Homo sapiens: one gene and its partner. Changing the gene in region 1 together with any one later gene gives a genetic interaction. Each region holds a gene or a part of one and is shown in the gene's direction. Other genes may lie near its edges.

Region 1 (3,570 bases):
TCAAGATTGTTGAAAGATGGCTTTTAATTTTAACTGTTGTTGTTTTGCAGACAAAGCTCTGATGGCACCAAATCTTGACTCCTTTGGACGCGATCGGGCACTGTATCAAGAGCATGCAAAACGTCGCATTGCAGAGCGGGAGGCCAGGAGGTAATTCTCAAAACCCTTGCTCTGGCTTGTTTGGGAAGGGAGGAGTCTCTGTTATCTAGTTTGGGAACTTGATGTTTATTATTTAGGACTCGTCGTAGACAAGCCAGAGAACAAACCGGTAAGATGGCAGATCACCTTGAAGGCCTTTCCAGTGATGATGAAGAAACTTCTACAGATATTACTAATTTCAATCTGGAAAAAGGTTAGACATTTATTTGGAAATAAGACTCATCATCAGTTTAGTTTCTACTTGGGTATGGTTTTTACCATGAAATGATTTGAATCTTCATGGTCTCTGCATTAGAACCAGACACTTCTTTTTTAATTGCAGAAATTTGCATGCCTTTTTATTAGTGAATATCATGATGAATTCTCAAAAATAGGGGTAACATCTTCTCATAGGGTGTACTTAGTATTTGCATAATAAATGTTGTTACTGTTCCAAATGGTAGAATTTTAAGTGACTGGAAATGTGTCAGGTCCTTGAGGGCAGCTCTCATTGCAGCCTGTCTGGTCTGGAAAGGTAAAGCTTGGCAGTAGAGCACTCAGCCCTGAAGGAAACTCTTGATTTGGGGAGTCATAAGTAATCTCACCTTAGAGGAATGGTTAGTACTATTATGTGCCAGGCATTTTCAGAAGGATCCCAAATAAAAGTCTTCATTTCCCACCATTGGCTATAATTGTTTGGAATTATATCAATTGCACACCATTTGGAACTTAGTTGGAGAAGCTTCTTTCTCTTACTTTTTTTACAGTGAACATTTCTAAACAAAATTTGAAAGACTAGCACAGTGATCATCCACATACCTATCACTCAGATAACAATGCTTATGATTTCACCAAGTTTGCCTGGCTCTTTATACAAGGAGATGTGTGTGTTTGCTGAACCATTTGAAAGTAACTTACAGACCTCATGGCTCTTCACTCCCCAAAATTTCAGAGTGTGTTTCCTCTAAATGAGTATATTTTTCTGTATAATCACAGTATTATTATCTTTTTTCTTTTTGTTAGATGCCTATTCTGATTAAGTATTTCTTTTTTTAGCACAATAAGAAAACAGATTTCTTAATATCATGTCCATATATAATTTTTCTCAATGGCATCCTGGAAAAACCCTTTTTAGGAACTATTTTTATGGGTTATTTTGTGGTTTTTGAAACCAGGATCCACCTAAGGTTCATGCTCTGCATTTGGTTATGACATTTTTAAATCTGGAATAAATGAGTAACCCTAAGTACACATTCACACACCCACCCCTATTGTTCTTTAAATTTTTGAAGAGACCAGGCCACTTCTCTTATAGACTGTCCTATATTCTAGACTGGTCTGTATGTTTCCTCATAGCATTGTTTAACTTGTTCTTTGATCCATTTCTTGTAAACTGGAATTTAGGTCTGAAGGCTTAATTAGATTTAAGTTAAACTTTTTTTTTTTCTTCCCCAAGAATAATTTATACAGGATGCTGTTTCATACTGCTTAAAAGCACATGACAAATGTTAGACTGTCCCCACTATTAGCAATGTTAAGATTGATCTTGCAGTAAAGGTTCTCAGAACTTTATCTCTCCATTGTAAATATTTCCTTTTCCCAAGTAATCTGGGACATCATAAGAGTATCTTATTCTTGGTTGGGCACAGTGGCTCACACCTGTAATCCCAGCACTTTGGGAGGCCGAGGCAGCGGACCACTTGAAGTCAGGAATTCGAGACCAGCCTGGCTCACATGATGAAACTCCATCTCTACTAAAAATACAAAAATTAGTTGGGCATGGTGGCGCATACCTGTAATCCCAGCTACTCAGGAGGCTGAGGCAGGAGAATCACTTGAACCTGGGAGGCAGAGATTGCAGTGAGCTGAGATCGCACCACTTCACTCCAGCCTGGGTGACAGAGTGAGAATCTGTCTCAAAAAAAAAAAAAAAATCTTATTCGCAAATAACTTTTCACTTAAAGTTCCTAGCATCCATTCAGCTGATAGTTGGCTATGTCAGTTATTATAATCACCAACAGAGTTTGAATGAAGCAATGTGATTAGTGACTGATTATGATGCACAGCTGTTAATCTGTGCAGTGATCTGTGAACTAAAAAGCTAGCGGCACAATTACTTATGGCTAATACACCGTAGTAACTGAAATTTGAACCATCTTGTTTGGGAACAGGTTTTATTTAGCCAAACTGTGGTAGAAAAATTGTATATACTGGAACTGCAAAACAAGGACTGGCTGCACTTTAGTTTACATAATAGACAAATTGAAACTTCAATTTATTTTTTTCTTCTAAATTGTGACTAACAATTGGCCCTTTGTTAATGAGCGTATCTTCTGATACTGAAGCTACAAAGAAAACACTGAAAATATTGGACTGTTTTTTTCCTACTTCATACTAATGTATGGTTCTCTGTGGGGTTTTGTTGTTTTTAGATCGAATTTCAAAAGAATCCGGCAAAGTTTTTGAAGATGTCCTTGAAAGTTTCTATTCAATTGACTGTATTAAATCACAGTTTGAAGCATGGCGTTCAAAATACTACACATCCTACAAAGATGCTTACATTGGCCTTTGTTTGCCAAAATTATTCAACCCCCTCATACGACTTCAGCTCCTCACTTGGACTCCTCTTGAGGTGAGTGGCTTCTGTCACTATTAGAAAGTGTTATAATTTGATATCTGGGTAATTTTAATCTCAAAGCTAGAGATGTAAGCTTAAGCAAAATATTTTGCAGGGGTGATAGGGCATAGGCTATAATTGATAGATTGTATCTGGTTATAATCTTATGATCTTTCCTTTTAAGTTTCATGTCTTCCCAGCAGAGCTATGTGTTTTTTTTGTTGTTGTTGTTGTTTTTTCAGTTTACATATAATCCTTTTTTCAGCCAGCTGAAATTATATGCAGTAACACTGGGATATGAACATGAATAGTAAGAACTTGGTCCTTTGATCCTAGAGGAACTCAGAACCAGATGGGAAAGCACAATGAGGCAGGTGTGAAATGAGGACATGACCCAAGTCAGTTGTCATGGTGAGAAAAATTGATAGGCCAGGCATGGTGGCTCATGCTTGTAATCCCAACAGTTTGGGAGGCCAAGGCGGGAGGATTGTTTGAGCTCAGGAGTTCAAGACCAGCCTGGGCAACATAGCAAGACCTTGTCTCTACTTAAAAAAAAAAAAAAAAAATTAGCTGTGGTGGCATGTGCTCATATTCCTAGCTACTTCGGGGGCTGAGGCAGGATTGCTTGAGCCCGGGAGATCAAGGCTGTAATGAGCTATGATTGTGCCACTGCACTGCAGCCTGGGTGATAGAACAAGACCTGCCACAAGAAAAAAAAAAAAAGATAAGGAGGTGGAATCAAGAGGACCTATTGGCCTGTCATATAAGGGAGGGGGCTAGAATTGACTCTGGAGGTCTAGTGGTGATGTTTACAA
Region 2 (3,570 bases), on another chromosome or scaffold:
TGAGCATCTTTTCATGTTTTTATTTGCTTTTTCCTTTATCTTTGGTAAAGTGTTTGTTCACATTTTTTGTCCATGTTTTATTGGGTTATTTGTCATCCTATTGAATTGTAATAGTTCATTGTATATTCTGGTTGCAAGTTCTTTATCAGATAATATGTTTTACAGATATTTCTATGGGATGGCTATTCACCTGGTTAATGGTATTGCTTATAGGACAGTTTTAATTTTGATAAAGTCCAATCTATCTGTTTTTTAAATTTATGGGTAGTGCTTTTTGTGTCCTGTCTAAAAAGTTAAGTCATTGCTGTCTCTAAGGTCACAAAGATGTTCTGTGTTCTCTTCAAGAAGTTTTATATATTTTTAGCTGTTATGTTTAGGTCTATGGTTCATTTAGAATTAATGTTTCTAGATAGTGCAAGGCAGAGCTTAAAAGCTTGAGACTCTTTTTTTTAAAATATGATTTCCAGTTGTCATTCAACAGATATCAACTGATTTGGGCATAGTAGTAACACAAATAAACATAAGCAGCCTCTGCTGGCCAGGCCTGGTGGCTCATGCCTATAATCCCAGCACTTTGGGAGGCTGAGATGCGATTCGAGACCAGTCTGGGCAACTTAGACCTTGTCTCTGCAAAAGATTAAAAAACATTAGCCAGGTATAGTGGTGCGTGCCTGTAGTCTCAGCTATTCAGGAAGCTGAGGTGGGAGGATTTCCTGAGTCTGGGAGATTGAGGCTGCAGTGAGCTGTGATCCTGCCACTGCACTCCAGCTTGGGCAACAGAGTGAGACCCTGTCACAGAAAAACCAAAAAAACCAACCATCTCTGCCTATGAAGAATATGCTGGGATACTGTGAAGAAAAGACATGTAAAAGCACAAATTTCAACATGGTATAATGGTTGGAACTATAAACATATATAGATTAATACTCAGATCCTGGCTCTGCTGCCATCCTGGCACAAAGTTCTATAAATGGTGGCTGTTTTTCTGTACTGAATACAGACATTGGACATTGAATAAGGTAATTAGCCTCAAAAGGATGAAAGTATCAAAGAAGGACCTTTTTGTTCCATTTTAAAGATGAAGAAACCAGGGTAGAGGGAGGCTAAATAACTTGCCCAAGGTCACCCAGATGGAAAGATTTTTAGTATATGTTTAAAATTGGTGATGTATCTTCAAGTATTTGTTTTAGGTTGTGCTACATACACTAGGTATAGTGCTACATACACTAGTCACAACCTAAAACAAATACTTCAAGATTCATAACCAGTTTTAGTCTGGAAAAAACTATTGTTTCTCCAGAACAGAAACTATCTTATTTTTCTGTCCCTATTGCCTGGCACTTAAGAGCCCAACAAACATTTAATGGGGTGAAGAAGGTTACTGTTAACGTTACAGTGCACGATATGTGAATTAGATTATAATTTTTCGTGTGCCTTTTGTTAGGCTTTTGAATCTAAAAATCCATAATGAATAAGTCAGCAATATTTGTGTTTTGGGTTTGTTGTTGTTAGGATACAAGATCTCCCTCCCGTCACCCAGGCTGACGTGCTGTGGCTCGATCTCAGCTCACTGCAGCCTTGACTTCCCTGGCTCAGGTGATCCTCCCACATCTCAGCTTTCCAAGTAACTGGGACTATGGGCGCATACCACCACACCTGGATAATTTTTTGTACTTTTAGTAGAGACAGGGTTTCACCATGTCCTCCAGACTGGTCTCAAACTCCTGGGCTCAAGTGATCCACCTGCCTCAGCCTCCCAAAGTGCTAGGATTACAGGTGTGAACCACTTTACCTAGCCTAATATTTGTACTTCTACTGTTCTCTTCTGCCTGCTAGGTTTTTGATAATTTCATAAGATTGAACATAAGAAATGGTGATTTTGAGGCTGGGTACAGTGGCTCACGCCTATAATCCCAGGACTTGGGAGGCCAAGGCTGGCAAATCACTTGATGTCAGGAGTTCGAGACCAGCCTGGTCAACATGGCGAAACTCCATCTCTACTAAAAAAAAAAAAAAAAAAAATTAGATGGGCATGGTGGCATGCACCTGTAATCCCAGATACTTGGGAGGTGGAGGCTGAGACATGAGAATCACTCAAACCTGGGAGGCGGAGGTTGCAGTGAGCTGAGATTGCGCCATTGCACTCCAGCCTGGGCAACAGAGCTAGACCCTGTTTCAAAAAAAGAAAGAAAAGAAGTGGCAATTTTGACCAAAAATGGTCAAGTATTGGCATTTTCATATGGTTCAACCCACGTAAGTCCTAGATCACGTTACCTCCCACTTTGCTAAACTGCTGCTTCCTGTTTCTAAATTTTTTAGTGTTGGAGTCTCACTATGTTGCCCAAGCTGGATTCCAACTCCTTGGCTCAAGTGATCCTCCCACCTCAGCTTCCCTAGTAGCTGGGACTATAGGCATGTGCCACCACACCTGGTAGCTGCTTCCTATTTCTTATTTCAGTGAAAGAATAAATGTAAACAAGATAAAATAAACTAACGTTTGTTCATTTATTGAATAGAGCAAATACTTGTCTCCTTGTACTTGCTTTGTCCCTCTGCTTATGAGGTTTAAATGAACATGTACTTGAAATGTCTTTTCTTAGATGGAGATGGCGATGGAGATGGAGCAACTGGAAAGAAGAAGAAAAAGAAGAAGAAGAAGAGAGGACGTTAGTGTCTTAAGTTAATGTTAATTGATATATTAGAAGTGTTTATTCTGTCGGGTGTGGTGGCTCACACCTGTGATCCCAGCTACTCCGGAGGCTGAGGCAGGAGAATTGCTGGAACCCAAGAGACGGAGATTGCAGTAAGCTGAGATTGTGCCACTGCACTGCAGCCTGGGCAACAGAGTGAGACTCTGTCTCAAAAAAAAAAAAAAAAAAAAAAAGAAGTGGTTATTCACTGACAGGTTTGAAGAGTAGGTTTGAAGTTGCTTAAGGTCCTGATATATGTTAGGGAAATAAACTTAGGCTTAATAGAAGCAGAATTTAGTGAAACTAATAATTATTTATTAGTTTAATAACTTTGGTTTAACAATCCTTTATTTTCTTTAGCTGTTAGCTAAGGGATGTCGATATGAATTGGTTGCATTTTACTGCAAGTTAGGGATGAGTTTCTAAAAATTTTATGATTTAAAACTTGCATAATTTAAAGAATAATTCTGTCAAGAATGGCCGAAGTGGTGCCATGGTGGTGGTAGGGTAAGCGTTGTTTGTAATTTACCTTCCAGCTTTTAAATTATGAGATTCTTGATGAGTATTTAATGAGGAATCCCGTTATTTAAGATGTGTGCATATGGTGAGACTTTATTATTAATAATAACTTTTATATTGTACGATCAGATTTGTATAAAATATCCTGCTTGTTTTGAGTTTCTGTAAGTGCCACAACCAAACATCATCAGGTGCCCGAAAATATATTAAGGAGGCTGAAGGGAGATTTCGTAGTGTTGAGGAAGAAAGGTTGGGTTGAGAATCACAACATGTAAGTTTTAATCTTGGATGCCATTTGGGCTGTTGTAGACCACTGAATGTCTGGTTATGCCTTCCTTTAAAATTTTTCAGGCTAAAATTT

What was found.
Region 2: changes in PAXBP1 (region 1) and METAP2 together harm fitness more than expected from each alone (negative genetic interaction), as found in Homo sapiens cells (one large-scale study listed by BioGRID).

The regions. Positions count from the first base shown.
Region 1 is NC_000021.9:32,747,699-32,751,268, reverse strand, and holds part of PAXBP1 (PAX3- and PAX7-binding protein 1), read left to right. Parts: exon of another isoform or gene 1-15; intron 16-50; coding exon 51-150; intron 151-236; coding exon 237-352; intron 353-2,570; coding exon 2,571-2,770; intron 2,771-3,020; coding exon of another isoform or gene 3,021-3,056; exon of another isoform or gene 3,057-3,570. UniProt on the Homo sapiens protein: Adapter protein linking the transcription factors PAX3 and PAX7 to the histone methylation machinery and involved in myogenesis.
Region 2 is NC_000012.12:95,480,615-95,484,184, forward strand, and holds part of METAP2 (methionine aminopeptidase 2), read left to right. Parts: intron 1-2,600; coding exon 2,601-2,666; intron 2,667-3,570. UniProt on the Homo sapiens protein: Cotranslationally removes the N-terminal methionine from nascent proteins. The N-terminal methionine is often cleaved when the second residue in the primary sequence is small and uncharged (Met-Ala-, Cys, Gly, Pro, Ser, Thr, or Val).